Linked DNA regions of Homo sapiens. The protein of the gene in region 2 purifies or fractionates together with the protein of the main gene of each other region. This does not show direct contact. Each region holds a gene or a part of one and is shown on either strand. Other genes may lie near its edges.

Region 1 (3,500 bases), on a different chromosome or scaffold from region 2:
TTAGTCCCAAACAATCTGTGTATTTCCTGATTGCAGAGTCAGGAAATACTTAACTTTTGAAGCAATAATGGTTACTCCTGGGAAGTTTTATAATTGGCTGCATAGTGATAACGTGGACTTTAATAAATACAATGAAAATACCGCCAGCTTATTTAGAAAGAGAGAACTTAGAGCTAATACTGAGGACTACACCAGTTTGGCAAAATCATTGCTCTTCGTGACCACCTCCAGTTTCCAGCTGGCTTCCTGATCAAAGGTATCTTTCCTTAGTGCTTTTTCACTCTCCAGATTTTCTCCTGTGTTTGTTCAGGTCTTTGAACATCAGTGTTTGGTAGTTGTAGAATTTGTTTTATTTTGAAATCAGGTAAAATGTAGTTTATAAAATGTTAATGGGTTTTTTGAAGTATGTTAAGTAACTATGATAACCAATTAATGAGAAAGAACAGCATGACATCAAGGAATCTAGAAGCAATATTTTTTTTTTTTTGTCTAGAGTGAGGAATTGCTTTAATGTCTGAGTCTTGGTACTTGATTCTAAATTGTTTTAGTGAGGTCACTGAAGGTGTAACAACAAAATACTAGCTAAAGGTGGCACTGTGCTTTTTCTAAATATAATGAGACCCTTATTTCTGTTGAATTGATTCCTGTGTGTTAATGGAAATGGATCATTTTAACAACTTGCACACTACTTCAGGTTTAATCATAAAGGTGATTTTTCCCTCTCTTGATTGTACATTATCCTGCCTTTATATTGGCATTAATCCAAAAATTAACTCACAGAATGTGGATCTCGATGAGACCTTATCAACCATCTATCAAGTTCCCCCATTCACTTTGCTCTTGAGGAAGTTATCTGGCAGAGGTGCAACAACTATTCCCAGAGGTCTTGAGCAAAATATTGGGGATAGAATATAAACCTGTCAGTCCCTAGTTTGGTTGAGCCTCTTTCAGTATCATTGTTTTGTGTTAATAGATTAAATGCTGCCACTGAGTAGAAATCTTGCCTTAAATTGGTGTGTGTAAATCGTCATTAGGCTCTGTGGGTTGTAGGCAGATTCTGAGCAGCGGAATTATTTGTAGCTACAATATGTAGCTAGGGTGTGTAGCTTGAGGTGCTCTATAACATTTAGAGTCATTCTGGAAACATACCGTCACTTCCTAGTTTGGGTGAATGGTGAGCAGAGTGAGAAGCCACTGCTTTCTATTTTTGGGTGTGACAGATCTCTTGAGTCACCAACGGGAATTTACTAAACTGTCTCAGTCCTGAAGAATTTATATCAGAGTTCTAGGTAGTTTTTCACTCCTATATATATGACTCTGTTTGCTGTCAGCATTCATTCAAGTTCTTCTGAGCCCAGACCATTTTCCTAGTGGCCACAGGGAGGAATTCTAGTAAGCAACAAAATCCCCCCAACTCAGTCTTTCACTTAAGAGCTTATGGTACGATGGTACAGGAGAAAGAGATATTGAAAAGATACAACACATATAAGAAGGATTCAAATTCGTTCAACAATATTTGTAAATGTATGTATAAATATATGTCAGTTAACACTATGCTACAGGAGAATCCTATGATTCCAAAATATTGTATGTATGTACAAGTACTTGATAGAAATTTTATTTCTCTTGCATTGTTTCTGATGAATCCCTTAAGTAAATGCTTCAATACAAGATTTTCATGATTCTCTGATCACTCATTTCCCCGCTATGGATATTTTACTGTGCTTATATGAGCAGTGTGCCCCTTCTGGTGTGGCCTAAGTGAGTAGTCAGGGGCTGTATAATGCTAGTGTTTATACTCTGTGTTTCACATGAGGATAAGCAAAAAAAAAAAAAACAGAGCTGTTGTTAGATTAGTTTTGCAGAGTCTCTGCAACCCATGTCATTCAAGTTGTGGTTAGTCATAACCTGAGAAAAGGTAGTAAAGGTAACTAGAACCAGTTTTGTGTTGTAATATTAGCATCTTAAATTATTAAAGATTAAATTATGTACTCAGTTTAGAATTCAAGATGATAAACTTTGCTTATATAAATTGGATCACTTACAGAATTACATTTAGGTGTTGAGTTTTTACCTGTAGTCACAGGGAAGGATCCTGGGAGACTACAGAAATTCAGCCACAAATCAGTTTTTCATGTAAAAACTCTTGATATGGCGGTAGAGAAATTCAAAAGACTTGACACAATTAAGGTTGAATTGACTTTATGTGCAATCTCAATTGTAGAATGGAACTCTGAGGTTGTATGTAAATCATTTAAATATTTGTAACAAGATAAAATATCTGCAGTAAAATCAGTGCTACAGGCTATATTTCTGATTCCGTACTCTGTAGAGACACTTTTGGAGGCATACTTGGGTTAAAAATTAGATGAAAAGTATTTAGTGGAAATCAGACAAAAAGATTTTGGGTTAAAAATCAGATTAAAAATATTTAGTAATCAGATGAAAAGTAGAGAGAAAGAAGAGATCATTCTCCTAGGGCTTTGCCCACTAGAATCATTTTATTTTTTGCAGGTTTGCACGGTTGAGTGTCAGCTAGCTCACTCTCCATAGCTTTGGCCCTTGCCAGGTAAGGTAAATCACATACTAAGGCAGTAAGAAAATGATGAAGGGTTGAGGTTGCTAGTCACATGTTAGCACAGATACCTGACTTTGTCCCTGAGACATGGCAAGTGTTCAGGGTGAGTCACTGAAGCTATAGCATGTGGATTTTATCCTTTCATAGGAAATACTTGGTCTAGCAAGCGGAAATTCTTGTTATTTGTAAACTATGAATGTTCTAGCAGTATATCCCAAATAATTACAACAGCCCCTCCTTATCCACAGTTTCAGTCACCTGTGGTCATCTGTGGTCCGAAAATATTAAATGGATGTGGCAATAAACTGTTAACATCTCTGAACTCAGAGACCTTGTGGGAGGAATGTGCCTTGTATGTTGGAGAAATAGCAAGGAGGCCATTGTGGCTGGAGCTGAGTAGAAGGGAATTTAGTAGGAGATAAACTCTAGGAACCAATTGCCAATCAGGAAATCTTTGAATCCACCTACGATCTGGAACTGCACCGCCCCCACCATGCACACTCCCCACCCTGCCCCTTTGAGTTCTCCCACCTTTGTGGATCGAACCAATGTACATCTTACATATACTGATTGATGTCTCATGTCTCCCTAACATGTAGAAAACCAAGCTGTAGCCCAACCACCTTGGGCACATGTTCTCAGAACCTCCTGAGGCTGTGTCATGGTCATGCCCTTAACCTTGGCAAAATAAACTTTTAAACTGATTGAGACCTGTCTCAGATACTTTTTGGTTTATAGAATGTACCACATTTTATTTATCTCTTCACTTGCTGATGGACGTTTGGATTGTTCTCAGTTTTAGAGTTGTGAACCAGAAAATCTGAGACAGGTCTCAGTTAATTTAGAAAGTGTATTTTGCCAAGGTTGAGGATGCGCACCTGTGACACAGCCCCAGGAAGTCCTGATGACATGTCCCCAGGGT
Region 2 (3,500 bases):
GGCCTCCCAGGTAGCTGGGATTACAGGTGCAAGCCAGCACACTTGGCTAATTTTGTATTTTTAGTAGAGATGGGGTTTCACCATGTTGGCCAGGCTGGTCTCAAACTCCTGACCTCAAGTGATCCACCCGCCTCAGTCTCCCAAAGTGCTGGGATTACGGGCGTGAGCCACTGTGGCCTGCCTCAGTGATTATTTTTTAATTGAACTAATAGTATTCCTGGTATTTTCAGTCATTGACAGCCAAAAATGCCTTGTCCCCAGTTTCTGGAGCTCCCCTCCTTCCTCCTCCTGCCATGGCTTGAGGTTGAGGCCTAGTAGGAGGCTGGTGGGGGTGGAGGGGAGTGGTAGAAATGAAGGCTGGAGAAAACAGGGCCGGCACACCAAGTGCCAAGCAACTCAGTGAGGGTTTCCTCCCCTTCCCTCTCTTCAGTAATTATTTTACCCTCCCTTGTTTTATCCTCAGCTATCTGCTAATCATGTTCCACTTGCTGAAAGGCAGTCAGGTGTAGAGCTCAGGAGTACAGCCTCTTAGGAAGGATGTGACCTTGGACTTTGAATGGGGTTACTGATGGTACTTAGTTTATACTGAGAGTATTAAATGAATTGATATGTGCTAGCTATTAATAACTTCATTTCTACCCCAAGTCGAAAGCCTTCCATGAGTGGAACTGGATCTTACTCATCTTTATGTTCAGTACACCCAGCACAGGATGCTTGGCTGTTGCGAGATGCAGCCAGCATTTTCTGGAGCCCTCCCACTTCCCCTTCCCCAGTACCTCAGGCCCCTGTGTCTCACCCATCTCATTTTCTTCTTGTCTCCACATGTGCTGGTCCTAAGCTATTTGGGCAAGTTTATATAAAGGTTGATACTGCTTTCTCTTCCCTGCTGATAAACTCCTGGAATCAGAAGCCAGTTTTCATTGCTTTCTTTTTTTTCCTTTTTGTCTTTTATTGAGACAGGGTTTCGCCCTTTTACCTAGGCTGGAGTGCCGAGGTGTGATCTCAGCTCACTGCAACCTCTGCCTCCTGGGCTCAAGTGATCCTCTCACTTCAGCCTCCTGAGTAGCTGGGACTACAGGCATGCACCACCACACCCAGCTAATTTTTGTATTTTTCACAGAGACAGGGTTTCACTGTGTTGTCCAAGCTGATCTCAAACTCCTGGGCTCAAGTGATCTGCCCGCCTCAGCCTCCCAAATTGCTGGGATTACAGGCATGAGCCACCGCGCCCAGACAGTTTTCATTTCATTTCATATATTTCTTTTACATGGTAGATGCTCAATGAATATTTGCTAGATGAATAAAGTGGTAGAATAAAGCAGAATAAAGTCACTTGAAATTATGTGTAGACTAGAGAAATATTTTTTTCCAGGTAGTATGTCTCTGACTTGTTATTTTAAAATCCTTCAAAAAATAAATTGGGGCATCTACTGGTTCATTATGGTACATGTTAAATTTACTTTTTAAATTTTACTTTATTTTTTATTTTTAGACAGTCTTACTCTGTTACCTAGGCTGGAGTGCAGTGGTGTGATCAGGGCTCACTGCAGCCTCAACCTCCTGGGCTCAGGTGATCCTCCCACATCAGCCTCCCAGGGAGGTGGGACTATAGGTGCATGCCACCATGCCTGGCTAATTTTTACATTTTCTGTAGAGTCAGGGTTTCACCATGTTGCCCTGGCTAGTCTCGAATTCCTGGGCTCAAGTGATCCACCTGCGTTGGCCTCCTAAAGTACTGGGATTACAGGAGTGAGCCACTGTACCCGGCCAAATTTTCATGTTTTAAAATAATTGCCTGTCTTCACGGTTACACCCTACTTCCTTCTTCTTCATTTCTCAGAATCAAGGAGAAAAGACAAGTATTTTATTTTGAAATATGTGACAAAGTTGTCTTAATCACATCCTGTTTTGTTATTTTGAAGCATGACTCTTAGCCCTTCTATGTTGTACTCTGTGTATTTCTAACATCCTGAAGGAGGAGAATGGAAATGTTACTTACATGAAAAATAGTTGTCACTAAAGGATCCTAAAATACTGTGGGGTGTGCAGATCGTCAGAATTTCAGATTGGCCTAGAGATCAAAAAGGTTTTCTGAGAAAAGTTCAAGGATGGTCCTTACCACACGTGATTCTGGATTTGGTCGCTTGAAAAATGGCCTTGCCCCACATCCCAGAGTAGAATGAACCCTGATTCTGGAGATCCCCCCAATAGCTTGTCAGGAAGAGGTGGGCTTAGGGGCAGGCGGGTGTGGCTCTGTGCTTCAGGCAGGCTGCTGTGCCTTCCTGAGCAGGGTTTTCAGCAGATTCACTAGTGCAGTCAGCAGAGTCCCTGCCTGCCCATACAGGAGACAGTCACCTAGCCCCCTGTCCCCTTATACAAAGATCTCCCTGTCTCTGTGTATAACCCTTTGTACTTATGTTTTCTATATCAGCCTTTCTGAAATGTTCAGGTGTGAGCTCACCTGGGCCCCACTCTAGGGGAATTGATGGGAAGGAACATTTGACAGTCATGAAAGGAGGAAGCAGTCAGGTATAGGCCATCTGTGTGTTTGGAGCCTGGGTGTCTGCTGTTGATGAGTGCCAGATAGAAATAGGGATTTGATAAAATGATAGATAAAATAGGATGGGACCATCTCAACCTTGTTTTTCTTGTCTGTGGTGTGTTACGTGGGATTCAGAGATATATAAGACGTGGTCATGGCCTCCAGAAATTTTTGTTCTGGAGGTAAAGTTATTACATTAATTATGTATACCAGTGTTAAAATATAGATAAGGTGTAACAAGCATCGTGTGGGGAGAGAATGGACAATGTCTGTGAGGGGGGTGCATCCCTTATTTAACAGTTATTTCCAAATCCGTGGCAGCTGAGACCTTGCCTCTCTTGTGTCTTTTTCTTTTCTCATGAGTTAGAATGAGGAGGAGACATGACCACGGGGTTCAGGGCAGAAAGTCAGACTCAGAAGGAAGAAAAAGAAGTCCCCAATTGCTCTGACATCAGCATCCCATGTCTGCCTCTGTTTCCTGTAAGGGAGCCCACCCATCTCTAGGACTCAGAAGGCATACATTGTTGAAGGAGCTACGTTTGAGGCTGGCTCTAAGGGACTTCGACAGGCTTGAGGGACTCATCTAGACCTGGGGCATTTGTTTTGTAAGGAAGGTTTTATTGGAACACAGACACACTCACTCATTTGTGTGCTATCTGTAGTTGCTTTCACATGTCTACGGTGGACTTGAGAAGTAGCAGAAATCATGCAGCCTGCAAAACCACATGTATTTATTATCTGGCCTTTTATGAAGAAAAGTTTGCTGATGCTTGCTCTAGACCAGCATGTGCCACGAGCACATTTTCTAGCAGATAAACAGATGTCTTATCTTGTCACTCCTATTGGATATCGTGCTGGAGAAGTGGTAGCTAGTGTAACAAAAACAAAAACAAATTGAAGGTATGCAGATTGGAAAGGTTATCTCTGGGAGGTAGGATTAGAGGTTGTTTTTCCTTCT
Region 3 (3,500 bases), on a different chromosome or scaffold from region 2:
ATAAATGTAAGGTATTATTATTTGTGCTTGTTTAAATGGAGCCTGGAGTCAAAGATTTGTGTATTTGGTGTATCTCAGTAATTCTGTCTGCATTGTTTGCTGTTTAGATTATAAACTACTTGAGAGTGAAGCTCATGCCTTTTGGGTTGTTTTAGCTTTCATTACTGTTTGGTTTTGGGGAATTTCTAGTAAAGTATCAATACAATATTTAATAGTTGCTGTTATTCTGTAACAGTGGAATGAATTGAGAAAAGGATTCGGGCATCAGATGGATGATTGTGCTAAATGATATTTTCAAAAACCTAATCCTGCTGTTCTATAATGCTAAAATAGAAGAGTTTGAGCAAAATTGTCCCAGCCTTAGTGGAACAAAAAGCATTTTCTTTTTGGCATGAATTCTGTGGTTTAGGTACAAAATAAAGCATTTTATATGTCAAAAGCTTCAGTCTCCATGATCCAGTATCTCATCTAGTATCTCTGTTAAACATGTGTAAAAAGAAAAGTGACCAACAGAAGCAGTGTTTTTAAAAGCGCTAGATATCCCTTCTTAAACTCCTACTCTGCTATAATCTAGAGAAGCAGTTTGCTGTAAACTAAACCATTTGATCTTCTAATTATGACCGTTGTCCTGTACTAAAAGTGATTTCTTTTTTCAAAGGTACGTCAGCCTGTCATATGCATCAACAACCATGTATTTTGTTCGATTTGTATTGATTTGTGGTTGAAGAATAATAGCCAGTGTCCAGCTTGCAGAGTCCCCATCACTCCTGAAAATCCTTGCAAAGAAATTATAGGTAAGGGCCTGTTTTATATATGCATAGGAATAGGTTTGAAACAATCTCCAAATAATTTATATTTCGAGGAAGACTGAAATAGGCTATTTTCAGTGATGCTATTTGGCCAACATAATACTGAGTGGTTGAGTAATTTGTGTAATGTATATGTGGAGCAACTGGGGCACAAGGCACTGAGAGGTGCTAAGAGGAATAACCCTGAGAGCCTCACGGAACTTACATTTTCATAGCAACTGAACCAAAAGAAAAGCAGCAAGTGCTAAGGGCCCCAAAAAAGCCCAGAGAGTTCAGGCAAGAAACTTCAGCTAAGAACACCGAGAAGGGCTTCATAAAGTAGGTGGCCTTTAAGCTGGACATTTAAATTTAAGGATGGATAACATTTCAACGGTGAAAATTAAGGAGGGCATTTCCTGCAGGGAGAATAGCATGAACTAAAAAGTTTAGATACAGGAAAACCCAGAGCATGTTTTTAGAAATGATCAGTAGTCTACTTTGGGTCCGACTACTGAGATAAGACAAAAGGTAAATTGAGACTTTAGTGCAGAGAACCTTGAATGACAGCTAAATCAGGGACTTGCTCTAGGACTAAGAAGAAGGGTGAATTGGGCATGATGGTTTTGAGCAAGGGAGTGGTATGATCCAAAATGTGCTTTACAAATATTACTTGTGGTAATACATAGGTTGGACTATAGGAGTAGACAGGATGTGAGTAGGTCTGGTAGGAGGCTTTTGCCTAGGTGATAGAAAATGTAAGTTTGGATTAAGGGTGAAAACAAATTCTATGTCACATTAATATTGGTGGGGTGGGGGAGGAGTAAAGCTTGAACTAGAGGATCCTTGAAAAGGAGAACTTCTAAAGAGCCTTTTTAGAGTTTGGTTTTTATTCTACTCATATAAGTTATTTATTTTAGGTTGCAAAAATTAAAATGATTTCTACTTGTTTTTGCTATAGGAAAAATTGAAAGTGAATCTACAATTAGCCAAGTATAGAAAACATTTTTCAGAAAACTTAAGAAGTCATTGTAATAGTCCCAAGTTAGGGAAAATGGACTTAAATAAGATTTTTTTTTTTTGAGACAGAGTTTCGCTCTTGTTACCCAGGCTGGAGTGCAGTGGCGCGTTCTCGGCTCACCGCAACCTCTGCCTCCTGGGTTCAAGCGATTCTCCTCCCTCAGCCTCCTAAGTAGCTGGGATTATATGCATGCATCACCACGCCCGGCTAATTTTGTATTTTTATTAGAGACGGGGTTTCTCCATGTTGGTCAGGCTGGTCTCGAACTCCCGACCTCAGGTGATCTGCCCGCCTTGGCCTCCCAAAGTGCTGGGAATTACAGGCGTGAGCCACCGTGCCCAGCCAAGATTTTTACAAAGGAAATAGAAAGGAATATATATGCTACAGAGCAAAAGAAGAACTAGTAGGACTTAGGAAATAAGAGATCTGAAGGCGCAATCAGAGTTGGCTCTTGGTACCTGGGTGAAGTCTGGTAGAGGACTGGTTCTCTGCTGTGTTGCATGCTACGGGGTTAACCTCTATCTGTTTTTTTTTACCTGCTGAATTTCACCAAGGAGTCAAGTCTTTTCTTGCAGAATATGAGCTTTGATGATTTGAATATTTTCCCCCAGCTTTTCTTCTCATCCCATATCCTACCTTTATTCATTCATACCTAAGTGATATTTCATAAATTCTCTCAAGGAAAATAGTTCATCCATTTTTGCATTTGGATAGAACATCCTGAAAAAGAACACCTGTAAAATACCTTTGCTATTATTATAATGCTAAAAAATACAAAGAAGGTAACCAGAGCATCAGTGAAGAGCTCTCAGGAAGAATTCATTGTGAGTGCATTTGTAACAAGTCATGACATAGAGTTAATGCCATGACTTACAGTCCATTGTAACTAGCCTGTTAGAATCCGTGAAAAGACACATTAATCTATATACATAGGTATATAGCAGTAATACTTTTTTTTTTTTTGAGACGGAGTCTCGCTTTGTCGCCCAGGCTGGAGTGCAGTGGCGCAATCTCGGCTCACTGCAAGCTCCGCCTCCCGGGTTCATGCCATTCTCCTGCCTTAGCCTCCTGAGTAGCTGGGACTACAGGCGCCAGCCACCACGCCCGGCTAATTTTGTTTGTTTGCATTTTTAGTAGAGACAGGGTTTCACTGTAGCCAGGATGGTCTCTATCTCCTGGCCTCGTGATCCGCCCGCCTCGGCCTCCCAAAGTGCTGGGATTACAGGCGTGAGCCACTGCACCCAGCCAGTAATACATTTTTATATAATCTCTTGGTTAAATGTAAATGTAATAATTGGTTTTATTATTTAAATATAGTCTAGTTTTCAGAATTTGAAGTAGTCCAAATGTGATAATTACAGCCCTTTCCTCCACTGAGTTTGCTGTGATAAGATATGTAGATATGTAAATACAATATGATGTGTTACTGAAGGTATTTCTTATGGTGTTATTTGATATATTTTTTTTTCCTCAAGATTAGGGTAGAGAAAAGGCCTAGATGTAAGCCCCAAGTGTGTATGTAAGGGGAAGGGTAGATGTGAAGCTGGGAAGCTATATAAAACAATATGAAAAAGGATCATTTTCATTCTTCCCGAATCAGAATGAAAAATTAGGATTTTTTTTTTTTTCCCTACAGGAGGAACAAGTGAAAGTGAACCTATGCTAAGCCATACGGTCAGGAAGCATCTTCGGAA
Region 4 (3,500 bases), on a different chromosome or scaffold from region 2:
CCTAGGAAGTTGGTAGCAGAACACAGGGTCAAAATAAAATACAAGAAATCACTGTAGCCTGATAATCTGCAAGACACACCAAGCAGACAAGTGGTAAGACAGTGGGAAGTGTGCACACATTTAAAGCAACAATTCTGAAATGTGTCCATGTGGTGAAGTGTGCACCTACCTGGAAGCCATGAGCACCCTGCAGAACACCTGAAACATTGATAAGTGTAAATCTGTAATAGAAACTGAGAACATCAGAGCTAAATGACAACTTAGGAACACAAAGGAGGAGACAGCAGACACTGGGGGAGGGTAGCAAGAGAGAGAGGAGCAGAAAGATAACTGTTGGGTACTGGGCTTAATTGGGTCCTGGGTGATGTAATAATATGTATGACAAACCCTCGTGGCAGGTGTTTAACTGTGTAACGGACCTTCACATGTACCCCCAAACCTAAAATAAAAATTTAAAAAAGAAAAACAACCTAAGAACAATTTTATACCTATCATGTTATTTAAAAGTTAGATATACCATATAAAATTTTAATTCCAAATGTGCTTTGGACATTTGTGTGTGCAACAACAAAAACAAGCCTAATAAACTGAGTTTGGGGGATTTAAAAAATATTTCTTCATCCAAAGGGAATATTTACCTGCTATTTTGGTGGCAGGCACTAAAAATTAAAGTAGTTTCTGGGAGCAAAATTCAAAATTGAGAAATTTTCTTCATTTGATTTTTTTTCTGTCAGTGAAAATTAGTTTATTTTAGTGATAGACTGTATATTCCATGAAAGAGTGGTATAAGAGTGCTATAAAAAGCCTGGGATAAAGCAACAGTGAGCAAGAAAACAAACTGTTAATGAGTTTTAATGATAAAGAGTTTTTGCTGGCCTGAAAGTGTCTGCAAGGCAGTCATCGATTCCCTATAAGCGAGGTGGACCCTCCACTTGGAAGAAGGCATTTCACTGTACCTTACTTAGATGAGGATGCGGGGACAAAAGTTTACACCTCTCTTAATGAGTACAGCCTTATGGACACAAGACAGTCTGGATCATAACAGGCCACTAAGTAGGCTGTACAGTCAGATGCAGCAGGTTCTCAGGAGCCAGTCAGCCTTGCTGAGCACTGGTAGTGGTATCTACTGCAGTGGTACTCTGAAACAGCAGTACCAGAAGGTACTAGAGGGAGAAAGCAGAGGCAGAGAGTGTGCAAGGGCCACCATCAGAAATGATCCAGGCCTCTTGGACTGAATCCTAATAATTCATTCAGTCATTCAGTAAATGTTTGAATTCCTGCTATATCAGGCCCTGTTCTGATAGCTGGGAATATAGTCAACAGTAGACCTCATCCCTGCTTCCATGGAACACATATTGAGAGAGCTTATATTATAATTGGGCCCACAGATAAACCACTTCATTAAATACTAAGAGAAAGCTTCACTAAATTAGTCTATTATGCAAATAATTTTAAAGACAATTTAAGTTTTACTTCAAACATAATTCAGTCTGGGTTAATATTCGTATGCATTTGCATTCTCTGTCCACAGTAACTCCTGCCTTCAGGAGGCATTCTAGAAGGATTCAGCTCTTAAACTGTGTGCTGTGGTGGTTACCTACCTGTTCACAATGCTTTTGATGTTGTTCCAGTAAAAGAGTGATCTGTAGCGTTTTGTTTTCCTCAGTATTAAGCAGACATTAATTGTCTTCATTTCCATTGGCAGAGCTTTTATCTCAGTTATCAGGAGTGAGACGTTCTGCAGGAGGACAGCTTAATTCCTCTGGCCCTTCCGCTTCTCAGTTACAACAACTGCAGATGCAGCTGCAGCTAGAACGGCAGCATGCCCAGGCAGCACGGCAACAACTGGAGACCGCACGCAACGCAACCCGGCGTACTAACACAAGCAGTGTCACCACTACAATCACACAATCCACAGCAACAACCAACATAGCTAATACAGAAAGCAGTCAGCAGACTCTACAGAATTCCCAGTTTCTTTTAACAAGGTAGCTCATTTGTTAATAGAATTTTGTTTGGGAAGTAATATTTTATTGCCACTACAGTCTGGAATTATCTTTTCTCTTTTGTGCATTATATTTCTTTAAAATTTTGTGTTTGATTAAAACTCACAGATCTCTGATTAAAACGCATATTCAGTATTTCCCCAAGAATGTGAAACATAGTAATTATTTTAGATAAATTAAGAATACTGGGCCAGACCCAGTGGCTCACACCTGTAATCCCAGCACCTCACACCTGTAATCCCAGCACTTTGGGAGGCCAAGGCAAGCAGATCGCCAGAGCCCAGGAGTTCCAAACCACCCTGGGTAACATGATGAAATCTTATCTCTACAAAAATGAGCCAGGTGTGATGGTGCGCACCTGTAGTCCCCGCTACTCAGGAGGCTGAGGTGGGAGGATCGCTTGAGCCCTGGAGACAGAGGTTGCAGTAGCCAAGATTGCACCATGCACTCCAGCCTGGGTGACAAGAGTGAGACCCTGTCTCTAAAATAAAATAACTGGTCTTGTTCTCAAGGTATATATCATCATATAATATGAATTGTTTTGCCATAGTACCCATAAAACTTAAACACTATATCATTATATATATATGGTTCATATTAGGTGTATTTATCATAATTAACGTTGCTTGTTATTGCCAGTTTTAATCTGCTTTGAAATATTAAAAGTATAAGAAGGATTTCATAATACAGTGGCAGTTTTCTCCTGTGAATTTCTAAAAAAGCTAGATTTAAATTTTTATGGTTGGCACACAAAAGTAACTTAAAAAAATGGCTTCCTATGGTATAAATAATATTTAGTAAAACAGTAAACTACTCTACTAGATGGAGTTCTTGTTTGCTTCTGAAACTGTTAGCAACTGCATGTATTTGTCTGCCAAAACTTCACAGGCATTTTATGTGACTTTTAGGAATATAAAGAATTCTTAAAAGAGCAATGATGAGTGGAGACTTAGCCTCAACAGATAATGAACCTGGACTAATTGGGCTTTTAAGGGAGCAGAGAGGAACATAAAGGAAGAACTGTAAAATGAAGAATAAAGTTTGTGTAATACATGATTATTTCCAAAATGCAGTGTGTATGACAATTCATTGGGATGTTAGAGGAAAATATTATAATTTCTACTTATGTTTCTTTTATCTCATACTCTGTTAATACAGTGGTGCATGTGTATAGTTATAAATAACATATTGTGGGTGCAGAATAAAAAATGCTTGAAAATCCCTGGGCTAGAGCCCCAGCTTTGCCAATTACAAGTTTTGGACCTCAGGCAAGTCATTTCACTCCTCCAAACCTCAATTTTATCATCAGTATCCCAGAAGTTTTGCCTTTAGAGAGATAATTATTTTGAGGATTAAATGGAATACTGGTATGTGTATGGTCTGGCTCACTATCTGGCCTATAGTAAAGGTCCAATTAATGGTACTCGTTATCAACATTTGTTATGAAACCAAGAAAAACATTTTAAATGGGTAATTTACCTTTGAATTATCTCT
Region 5 (3,500 bases), on a different chromosome or scaffold from region 2:
CTCCCAAAGTGCTGGGATTACAGGGTGAGCCACCGCACCCAGCCTAGTCTTGCTTTTTTAACAGTCCTCTACATGTTATCTTATATCTCAAAATGAAAATTATGACTGTTCAGTTTCCCTTTCTAGCTTTTAGCCTTAAAGCTCCTTGAGGAAAGACTCCATGTGATGTTCATTTCTTTATTTCCTTTGGTCTTAAGAAGGCACTCTTGCAAATATTCATTCCCTCCTCCTGACCAGGATTCATATTGATAATATGGAATGAAGTAAATCCTTTGTGGTTTTCTTATGCTATAATCATTTTTCAGACTCTCATTGGAAGAGAACAGTATTTGTGTCTTCTGCCTCTAGCTCTTTATGAGGATGTGTCAGTAGTCTTCCTGGCTAGCGAAAGTCTTTTCTTTTCTTTTTTTCTTTTTTTTTTTTTTTTTGAGACGGAGTCTTGCTCTGTAGCCCAAGCTGGAGTGCAGTGGCGCGGTCTCGCTTTACTGCAAGCTCCGCCTCCCGGGTTCACGCCATTCTCCTACCTCAGCCTCCAGAGTAGCTGGGACTACAGGCACCCGCCACCATGCCCGGCTAATTTTTTTGTGTTTTTAGTAGAGACGGGGTTTCACCCATGTTAGCCAGGATGGTCTTGATCTCCTAACCTCGTGATCCGCCTGCCTCGGCCTCCCAAAGTGCTCGGATTACAAGCGTGAGCCACCGCGCCTGGCCAAGTCTTTTCATTCTTATTGCATTTGTTTGGTTCAATATCATAATTTATGATCACTCAGATGCCAGTGATCTCTCCATCCTACCATAATTACCTCTTTATCTGAAAACAGCTGCCCACCTGCCATTTGCCCCATCACTGACACTTTGAGCATGGTCTTTATTTTATTGTGTATTGTATTTTTTAGTGTTTACTCTAAAAACATTGTAGACAAAGACTCTGTTTTATATCTTTTTATACCTCTGATGTAATCTCTTTATGGTAATGGTATCAATAATACCAGATTGTCGAGCTCTGTAATTTTTTTTTTTTTTTTTTTTGAAATGGAGTCTTGCTCTGCTGACCAGGCTGGAGTGCAGTGGCATGATCTCTGCTCACCACAACCTCCGCCTCCCAGGTTTGAGCAATTCTCTGCCTCAGCCTCCCGAGTAGCTGGGATTACAGGCGCGTGCCACCAAGCCCAGCTAATTTTTGTATTTTTAGTAAAGACGGGGTTTCACTGTTGAGCTCTATAATTATAAAATAATGTAGTGTCTGGCATGAAAGTGGATCTTTGATTATGCCTACCTGATGCTTTGCCTTATCCTTCACTAGAAATAAGAACCTATTTCTTAAGCCAGCTGTCATAGAACTATGGGGTAGGAGTTAACAAGGAGAAAATAAATAGATGGCTCCCTGAATCTATATAAATTTCCTACCCACAGTCTTTTTTTTTTTTTTTTTTTGAGATAGTCTCCTGTCACCTAGGCTGGAGTGCGGTAGTCCAACCTTGACTCACTGAAACCTCCACCTCCCAGGTTCAAGTGATTCTCATGCCTCAGCCACCCGAGTAACTGGGATTACAGGTGCATGCCACCACACCTGGCTAATTTTTTTGTTTTAGTAGAGATGGGGTTTCATCATGTTGGCCAGGCTGGTCTCGAACTCCTGGCCTCAAGTGATCTGCCTGCCTCAGCCTCCCAAAGTGCTGGGATAACAGGCATGAGCCACCGCGCCTGGCCAATTTATTCTTTACCTCTTGGTAATTGTGTCTTATTTCTCAGCTTATTTCCTTCACAGCATGAAATTATATTTATTGTTTCTCTCCCTATCAGGAACCTTGTCTTATTCATTGTTGAATTATTAGCACCTAGCTCAGAGTTTGGTATATAATAGGAGCTTGATAAATATTGAGTGAATGAATAATGAAAAGCATACTTGGTTTCATGAACATGAATACCTACTTGGAATTTTTAAAACCACTTTTTCTTCCACAGACTGGACTTGAGGGACACATAAAGAGAATCCACCAACACCTCCCCCTCCACACACACCAGCTTCCCATTCTCCCACTCCAACTCTAGCTATAGGAGTTATTGTTCCTGGGCCGGGCACGGTAGCTCAAGCCTATAATCCCAGTACTTTGGGAGGCCGAGTTGGACAGATCACTTGAGCTCAGGAGTTTGAGACCAGCATGGCCAACATGGTGAAACCCCATCTCTACTAAAAATTTAAAAATTAGCCAGGTGTGGTAGCATGCACCTGTAATCCCAGCTACTCGGCAAGCTGAGGCATGAGAGTCACTTGAATCCAGGAGGCAGAGGTTGCAGTGAGCCGAGATCACACCACTGCACTCCAGCCTGGGCAACCATGCAAAACTCTGTCTCAAAAATAAATAAATAAAAGGAATTATTGCTCCTTGGTTTATGTCCCAGATGGACTTTTGCAGCAATACAGTGATGTGGTAGTAAAGATACAAGGCTGAATTTGCAGTTGTCTAGACTTAATTTAATATAGAGTATCCAATTTATACCTTGTTTTTCATGTTCTTCACTCTAATGTCCTGGTAGGATTGAAATTGTATCTGAAGTCTGAGCACACTGCGTGCCTAGGGCCATAGTAGACCTTTCTTCAAATTTAAATTAGCTGAAGGCTGGTTGTCCTGTATGTGAAAATGTAATCCAAATATCCTGATTAGGCACAGGCCATCCCAATTAGGTGAATTATCTGAAGTCCTTGCTTTTTATCTGCTGACATTTATGATTAGAAAGCCTTAAAGCAGTTAAATTTCATTAATGGCATTCATTTGTATCTTATTACAGATTGCCTGTTTCCTGCAACCCAAAGAAGCTGCTTTCCTTCTCCTTATCTAATATTTAAGTTTGAACATATATTAAGCATACCTATTAAAGGAACTATACTGGTGGGGCACAGTGGCTTACACCTGTAATCCCAACACTTTGGGAGGCCAAGGCAAGAGGATTGCTTGAGCTCAGGAGTTCGAGACCTGCCTGGGCAACACGAGACCTCATCTGTACGATAAAACAAAAAATTAGCTGAGCGTGGTAGTGGTGCAGGCCTGTGATTCCACCTACTCAGGAGGCTGAGGTTGAGGCTGTGGTGAGTTGCACTCCAGCCTGGGTGATGGAGCAAGACCCTGTCTCAAAAAAAAAGGAACAATTCTGCAGAATAAGGAAGGGTTAGGCATCTGTAGCCCTACGTGTAAACCCTTTCTGCTACAGTCTCCAAAAGTGATCCCTATTAGCACGAGTTCTTTCTCTCTCCATCTGTAGATTATGAAAAATAATTCTGAGTAAAGATGCTAGGAGAGCATTCATTTATTAGATGCATTCCATATAGACAAAGTATTTACCAAGAAACAAGCCCAGGAGCAGGGAACCACCAGGTTGCCTGGTGAACCAGCCTAGATCAGAAATGGAGCAGGTCAAAACTCCTGTACTGATCAGTAGTGGGATCATGCCTGTGAATAGCCATTGCATTCCAGCCTGGGCAACATAGCAAGATTCCATCT
Region 6 (3,500 bases), on a different chromosome or scaffold from region 2:
ATTTATTTGTCAGAACCTGGGAGATATTTGTCAGGACCTGGGAAATATTTGTCAGAACCTGGGAGATATTTGTCAGAACCTGGGAGATATTTATTTGTCTCTTGAACTTTGCATAACACTAAGGTTTCGGTATGATTTGATTCAGATTATAATTGACCTTTTGGCCAATATCACACCAGTAATATGTCCTTCTCTGTGCATTGGCACGTGATAAAAATCTGTCCTATTACAGTTGATATTAGTTTTATTCAGTTGTTTAAAGAGCTCCCTGACAGATTTTCCATTGTGGAGTTTATTTTTTTCTCTTTTAAGTACCTTGAGGAGATTTACTAATTAATGTGCATAAATAATCACATTTAATCTGAAAGGTTTTGCTTCTTAGATTCTTTTTGCATATGCCTTGCTTTAGAAGATGAAGAATCTCATCTCTCTTTATGGTTTAGAAAAACTGGGATAAACCCAAGCTTGCCACTTACAGGATTTTTGACAAAATATTGTCCTTGGGCCCAAAGGACTGGCATCACTGGTGAGCGCGTTAGAAATTCGGAAACTCAGCCTTGACCTCCGATTTCCTGAAGCAAAATCTGCACACTAGTTTATTGGACACATGAAAATTGGAGAGGCAGCTTCTAACTCACCATGACTTTTCTGCCTGCGAAATATACACAGCTTATTCATGTGACGTAAATGTAGCACTCAAAAATGGACATGCCTTTGTTGATGCCCTTAATGTTATACTTGTTATCAACCAGAAAAGTATTGTATATACACTGCTTATGTGGCTCTCAGGCAATTCTCTTTCCTCAGAGTTAGAGAGTATTCTTCTGCTAAGAATTACCTTATTGTATAATTTCAGTCACTTGTGTAAGTCAGAACCAGTTCTCTTCACTCGCTCATTTCACCTCGAATCAAGTATTTGTTATTGTTGTTGTTTCTTCTTCAGACTCTGTTGACGTTCAGGGATGTGGCCATAGAATTCTCCCTGGAGGAGTGGAAATGCCTGGACCTCGCTCAGCAGAATTTGTACAGGGATGTGATGTTGGAGAACTACAGAAACTTGTTCTCCGTTGGTGAGGATAACTTCAATACGTAGTTCCTCCTATGCCCTAAAGAGTTCCTTTCGTTCCTCTGCGGAATGTTTTTTGGGAGTTTCTGCGTTGCATGAATGAGTTTCAGATCCCTGCTTTTAAGAAAAACATGGGGAATAGTTGATGTAAAAAAAAAAAAAATCTTCAAAATGTGGTTCATCTTGACATAAACCTTCCTTTTTTTTCAGCTGATCTGTATCTTTCACTCTAGTGACAATTCCAGAAATTCAGTGGCATGAAATATTGTTGCCCACAACTTAAAGTCAAATTTCCACCACCAATTTTTTATGTCAGCAGTACTGAGTGGTGAAACTAAGAACCCACAGATTTAAAATACTTACTGAATATTCTAAAGGTGATGTCAGGAAGCATAATTTTGGGATTAATTTTCTAGAATCTTATATAATGTTCACTCTACTAAGCACAGTACAAGGTTGATAATTGGAGAATTTCAGCAAGAGTAATGTCACTTTTTTCTAATAAAACAGGTCTCACTGTCTGTAAGCCAGGCCTGATCACCTGCCTGGAGCAACGAAAAGAGCCCTGGAATGTGAAGAGACAGGAGGCAGCAGACGGACATCCAGGTGGGTGGGAATGAACGAAGCAGGTAACCCAGGTGAGAGGTCCAGAGGTCGAGGAGGAAGCCAGACCTTAAAATGTGGTTTGAGAAGCTCTGCCCTAGTGGAGATGGTTTCTGAGAGCCTGGGTGTCTTTCTCTTGCTGTACCCTAGGAGCGTCTTCTGTCTCATTCTCTCAAATTTTGTATAGACTCTGCTTCCTGTTTAGTGATCTTCCTTTATAAAGGTTACAGTAAAAATCAGAGTCCTCCTCCTGACGAGTAAGGGCCTGTGTGGTCTCATGGCGTGCTCCGCCACTGCTTTTGGGAACATGCCTGTACCTGCCTGTTTTTGAGGAACTCTGTTAAATGTTTTTTGATTTCCTTTGCATCATGTCTGAAGTGTGCGAGAGGCGTGGTGATGGTGATTGGTTCAGAAATCCCAGAAGTCCCGTAAACAGATGTTGTATGCTTTCTGCTTTATGATTTCGTATCCTACAGAGGTTTCAAATGGGAGTCTACAGAAATGTATACTCAGCAGTTTTCTCCGAACACTAGGCATCTGCCCAAATATGAGATAATCTAATGTTATTTTACTTCAACATTTTATTTTATTTTTTTTAGTATGAGCTGAGGTTGGTCATTTAAACTTTATATTCCCTAACTCCCAACTGTAATAGTTATAATATTATCATTTTATAATTTCTTCTTTTTTAGTATGAGGCTTATCAGGACTCTGTCATTCATATGTATGTATGTGTGCATATGTATATATGTGTGTATATATGTGTGTATATATGTGTGTGTATATATCATATATGTGTGTATATATAATATATCAACATATCCTTTTGAAATGATAGGATTTCATTCTTTTTTATGCTGGAGTAATATTCTGTTGTCTATTTAAATCATATTTTCTTTATCCATTCATGTATATATACACACACATATATACAGTGTGTCTATGTGGGCATATGTGTAACAGATTATTTTAGAAATAAAAATTGTGTATATATTGTGTACAATGTAATAATTTGATATGTGTATACGTTGTGAAATAATTAGTGCAATCACTTCAAGGAACAAATCTATCACTTCACGTAATTACCTTTTCTTGTAGTGAGAACAGTTAATGTCTACCGTTGGCAAACTTTAAGCATACAAAAGATTATTAATAGTATTCGTGAAGCTACTCATTAGATTCCCCAAACTTACTCATCTTACAACTGAAAGTTTGTACCTTTTGAACAACAGCTCATTTTCCCCAACTCCAGGCCCTGGCAACTGCCATTGTCCTCTGCTCCTGTGAGTTCAGCCACGACAGATTCCACGTCTGAGGGGGAACGTGCAGTCTCTGTCTTTGGGGCCTGGCTGAGTTTATTTAGCAGGATGTCCTTCAGGGTCATCCACGTGGTTGAATGACAGGATTTCATTCCTTTTTTATGGCTGAGTAATATTCTATTGTCTATTTATATCACATTTTCTTTATCCATTCAGCATCCGCAAACGTTTAGCTTGTCTTTATATCTTGACAATTGTGAATAATGCTGCAGTGAACATGAGGGAGCAGATAATTCTTCAAGATGCTGCTTTTATTCCCTTCAGTTATTATATACACAGAAGTGTGATTGCTGCGTTGCAGGGTAGGTTTATCTTTTTCTAACTTTTAAATAACGCCCCCCCACCCTGGTTTTCATAATGACTCTACCAGTTGAGAACTCTGAGCGTTCAGAATTGTTTTTTCTTTACATCCTTATCAACATTGTTAGTAGATTGGCGCAAAAGTAAGAGTATTTCTTACTATTTAGAAGGCAAAAACCACAATTACTTTTGCACAGCCCTAATATGTTACT
Region 7 (3,500 bases), on a different chromosome or scaffold from region 2:
TAAAAAATATAAAAAAATTAGCCGGGCATGGTGGCAGGCGCCTGTAGTCCCAGCTACTCGGGAGGCTGAGGCAGGAGAATGGCGTGAACCCAGGAGGCGGAGCTTGCAGTGAGCTGAGATCGCTCCACTGCACTCTAGCCTGGGCAACAGAGCAAGACTCCACCTCAAAAAAAAAAACAAAACTGTTATACGGATGAAGAAAGCTAAGGCAAAGAAGGGTTAAATAACCTCTTAAGAGGTGGGAAGTATGTACTGAAGCTCACACAAATGTTAAGTGACAAGTTTAGGAATTGAATTCAGGCAGTCTAGCTGTAGAATCCTGGCTCCTATCTGCCACATTGTACTTGTCGTGGAACTATACCTTCCCATACCTTTCTCCCCAGGTGCCACTCTCTAATTCTACTCTGGGGTCATAACTATTATTAGAAGTGGGAATTTACATTAACAGTTAAAATAGCTACTGCTAAATTACTCTCCGAAAGGAAGTACCAAAAGAAAACAAAACCCCAAACAGGAAGAAGTCTTTAAAAAACACCAATGAAGTAATGGCAACTCATGATTTAAAAAAAAAAAAAAAAAACTTTATGTAACAAAGCTGGACGTCTTGACGAGTACCTGTAGTACCAAGTACTTGGGAGGCTGAGATGGGAGGATCCCTTGAAAACAGGTGTTCAGGCTGCAGTACACATAGCCCCTGCACTCCAGTCTGGACAACATAGGGCCTTAAAAAAGAAGGAAGAAATTGTTACTTATCCTGCTGTAGTGAAATCTTTGATTATCTTATATCACTCCCTCCCTCAACTTTGAGATTTTTGAGGACAGTGTCTACCTTACCAGCCTGACACAATGTAAGAATTTAGCAGGCCAGGCATGGTGGCTCACGCCTGTAATCCCAGCACTTTGGGAGGCCAAGGCGGACAGATCACAAGGGTCAAGAGATCAAGACCATCCTGCCCAACATGGTGAAACCCCATCTATACTAAAAATACAAAAATTAGCTGGGCATGGTGGCATGCGCCTGTGGTCCCAGCTACTTGGGAGGCTGAGGCAGGAGAATCACTTGAACCCGGGAGGCAGAGGTTGCGGTGAGCCAAGATCACACCATTGCATTCCAGCCTGGGCAACAAGAGCGAAACTCCATCTCAAACAAAAAGAGAGAATTTAGCAGTTTTTAGCCTAATTAATTAATTAATGGCCATTTACTAATGAGCCTATAACTCTTATTCCAATGTTGATTTCTACAAGTTTTCCCCTCCCATCACAAAAGCAAATCTACCATGTATATAAAAAGTATTTCTAATTTGCCACAAGATTGGAAACAATATATACAGCATCAATAGAAAACTGGCTAAAAAATACCTTAACAGCTGTAAAAAGGAAAGGGGGGGGTGGGGGGGATGGGATTCTCCTATGTATTGATAGAGAATGACCTTCAAGATACATTAAGTGAAAAAAATCAAGATGTAGAATGGTAAAAATTGTCTGTTACTATTCATATTTTAAGGAGAAAAGGGGAAGTCTAGAAAAAGAATACACATTTGTATTGTTTGTATATGCGTGGATATACTGTCTCTGTAAAGTTACAAAAGAAACTGGTAACATTGGTTGCTTCCACCCAGAGAACTGGGTGACAGAGTGCAAGAGGGACTTTTCACAATATACAATGTACGCTTCTTAGATTTTAAACTATCTTAATGTATTATATTAAATTTAAAAAAAGATTTTGCTCTGAGTAATTACTTTATTTAGAAAATGTCTAAATTGTTAAATTCCTTTTTCCTTATTTTCTAGGCAAAACCTATGTGGGTCTAAAAATTGTTCAGGCCCTCCTAACCAACGAGTCTGTTTGGCAAATTAGCCTCCAGAAGTTCCCCATCTTGGTTGTGTGTTATACTAATCATGCTTTGGACCAGTTTCTGGAAGGTAATACTTATAGGCAAATTTGTTCTCTATCAAGATGTTGATGATTGAACCATCAGCAACTTCAGTAGCTTTCTATTGCTCTTCAAACAAAGTCAACAGTCCTTATCATTACTTACATGGCCGTTTGTGATCTGTCCCAGCTGGACTGTGAACCACAGCTCCTACTTCTTAACCTTGTTCTCCCTAACTCCAGCAACACTGGTTATCTTCAGTTCCTTGAAAGCCTCTACGTCCTCCATTGGCCCATGCCATCCTCTGGCCTGGAATAGTTTTTTCCCTCTCCATCTTGAGCTTATTCAACCTGGCCCTACTCAACCTGGCCCTACTCATTCTTCTGGTCCCACTTTAAATCTCTCTTCTCAGGTGGACTTTTTCTATAGCCCCAAAGTGAAGTCTCTTTTGCATTTTTTATTTTTTTATAATCTATTTTATGTATCGCTACCCTAGATGAGGATTGGTCCTTTTCTTGCTGTATTCACATATCCTGGCACATATTAGGCACTCAAAAAATACTAAATAACATTAATGGATGAATAAATATATGCTTTTCCTTTATTTTTATTCTTCTATACCTCCCTTTCACCTAGATAAATCTTTATTCTTAGAGTCTGAGTTTAAATATTAGATTCTTAAAAATAGATCCCTACCCCACCCAGACTAGGTAATGTCCCCTGCTACCAGTACTCACTACATTTATTGCTGCCGTATTAATTATTTAATGAGTAACTTCCTGCCAGAGACAAAGAAATGATAACAAATCAGAAACTGGGCCTATGTTTCTACTGCTATATCTTCAGAACTTGGCACATGCCTAAAACATATGAGCAATCAGTAAATCTGCAGAGTGAAAAATATGTAACATATCCTGGGTGCTTGCTTTGTGCTGGGCCCTAGCTAGGAGCTTTAAAGATTTTCTTTCATTTATCCAGACTGTAGCCCTATATGGGAGATATTGCCATCTCTAAATCACAGACAGAGAAACTGAGACTCAAGTCACTTGCCCCAGGTTACACAGCAATAAGTGGTAGAGCTAAGAGTTGGATCCCTAGTTGTCTGATTCCAGAACCTGTACTCTTTAAGTGCTACACTTTACTGCTCTGCAGGTCACATCTTCTCGGGGACCTTCTCACTCATTAATGGGGTAAATTTCCTTTAAGCACAAGTTTATTCTCTAAGGGACCAGACTAGATCCCAAATACACACAGCTCTCACCTGAGAGAACCTAGCATAAGCTCCTCTCAACCCTGCCATGCTCCACTTTGTTCCACAGGCATCTACAATTGTCAGAAGACCAGCATTGTGCGGGTGGGTGGAAGGAGCAACAGTGAAATCCTGAAGCAGTTCACCCTAAGGGAGCTGAGGAACAAGCGGGAATTCCGCCGCAACCTCCCCATGCACCTCCGAAGGGCCTACATGAGTGTAAGTCCCAGCTCTGAAATATCTGGGGTAGTTCAAGAGGGACCTAAACAAGATAGCAGTGGCTTTCTGGGTAGGCAGCCCAGGGTAGATTTGGAGGCTCCTCAAAGCTCTGGAGGACCCAGGTTCCTTTCAGCATTCTATTCTGCCAATCCCTTGGT

Evidence for each region.
Region 1: the proteins of UPP1 (region 2) and TBC1D4 purify together in Homo sapiens (affinity purification with mass spectrometry; one large-scale study listed by BioGRID and IntAct). This does not show direct contact.
Region 3: the proteins of UPP1 (region 2) and OBI1 purify together in Homo sapiens (affinity purification with mass spectrometry; one large-scale study listed by BioGRID and IntAct). This does not show direct contact.
Region 4: the proteins of UPP1 (region 2) and KCMF1 purify together in Homo sapiens (affinity purification with mass spectrometry; one large-scale study listed by BioGRID and IntAct). This does not show direct contact.
Region 5: the proteins of UPP1 (region 2) and SLC31A1 purify together in Homo sapiens (co-immunoprecipitation; one large-scale study listed by IntAct). This does not show direct contact.
Region 6: the proteins of UPP1 (region 2) and ZNF195 purify together in Homo sapiens (affinity purification with mass spectrometry; one large-scale study listed by BioGRID and IntAct). This does not show direct contact.
Region 7: the proteins of UPP1 (region 2) and ZNFX1 purify together in Homo sapiens (affinity purification with mass spectrometry; one large-scale study listed by BioGRID and IntAct). This does not show direct contact.

Annotation. Positions count from the first base shown.
Region 1 is NC_000013.11:75,363,670-75,367,169, reverse strand, and holds part of TBC1D4 (TBC1 domain family member 4), read left to right. Parts: intron 1-3,500.
Region 2 is NC_000007.14:48,095,765-48,099,264, forward strand, and holds part of UPP1 (uridine phosphorylase 1), read left to right. Parts: intron 1-3,500. UniProt on the Homo sapiens protein: Catalyzes the reversible phosphorylytic cleavage of uridine to uracil and ribose-1-phosphate which can then be utilized as carbon and energy sources or in the rescue of pyrimidine bases for nucleotide synthesis.
Region 3 is NC_000013.11:78,642,156-78,645,655, reverse strand, and holds part of OBI1 (ORC ubiquitin ligase 1), read left to right. Parts: intron 1-658; coding exon 659-794; intron 795-2,103; exon of another isoform or gene 2,104-2,630; intron 2,631-3,442; coding exon 3,443-3,500. UniProt on the Homo sapiens protein: E3 ubiquitin ligase essential for DNA replication origin activation during S phase.
Region 4 is NC_000002.12:85,047,661-85,051,160, forward strand, and holds part of KCMF1 (E3 ubiquitin-protein ligase KCMF1), read left to right. Parts: intron 1-1,705; coding exon 1,706-1,988; intron 1,989-3,500. UniProt on the Homo sapiens protein: E3 ubiquitin-protein ligase which accepts ubiquitin from an E2 ubiquitin-conjugating enzyme and then transfers it to targeted substrates, promoting their degradation by the proteasome.
Region 5 is NC_000009.12:113,252,544-113,256,043, forward strand, and holds part of SLC31A1 (high affinity copper uptake protein 1), read left to right. Parts: intron 1-3,500.
Region 6 is NC_000011.10:3,369,147-3,372,646, reverse strand, and holds part of ZNF195 (zinc finger protein 195), read left to right. Parts: intron 1-943; coding exon 944-1,070; intron 1,071-1,576; coding exon 1,577-1,672; intron 1,673-3,500. UniProt on the Homo sapiens protein: May be involved in transcriptional regulation.
Region 7 is NC_000020.11:49,264,558-49,268,057, reverse strand, and holds part of ZNFX1 (NFX1-type zinc finger-containing protein 1), read left to right. Parts: intron 1-1,791; coding exon 1,792-1,923; intron 1,924-3,193; coding exon 3,194-3,342; intron 3,343-3,500.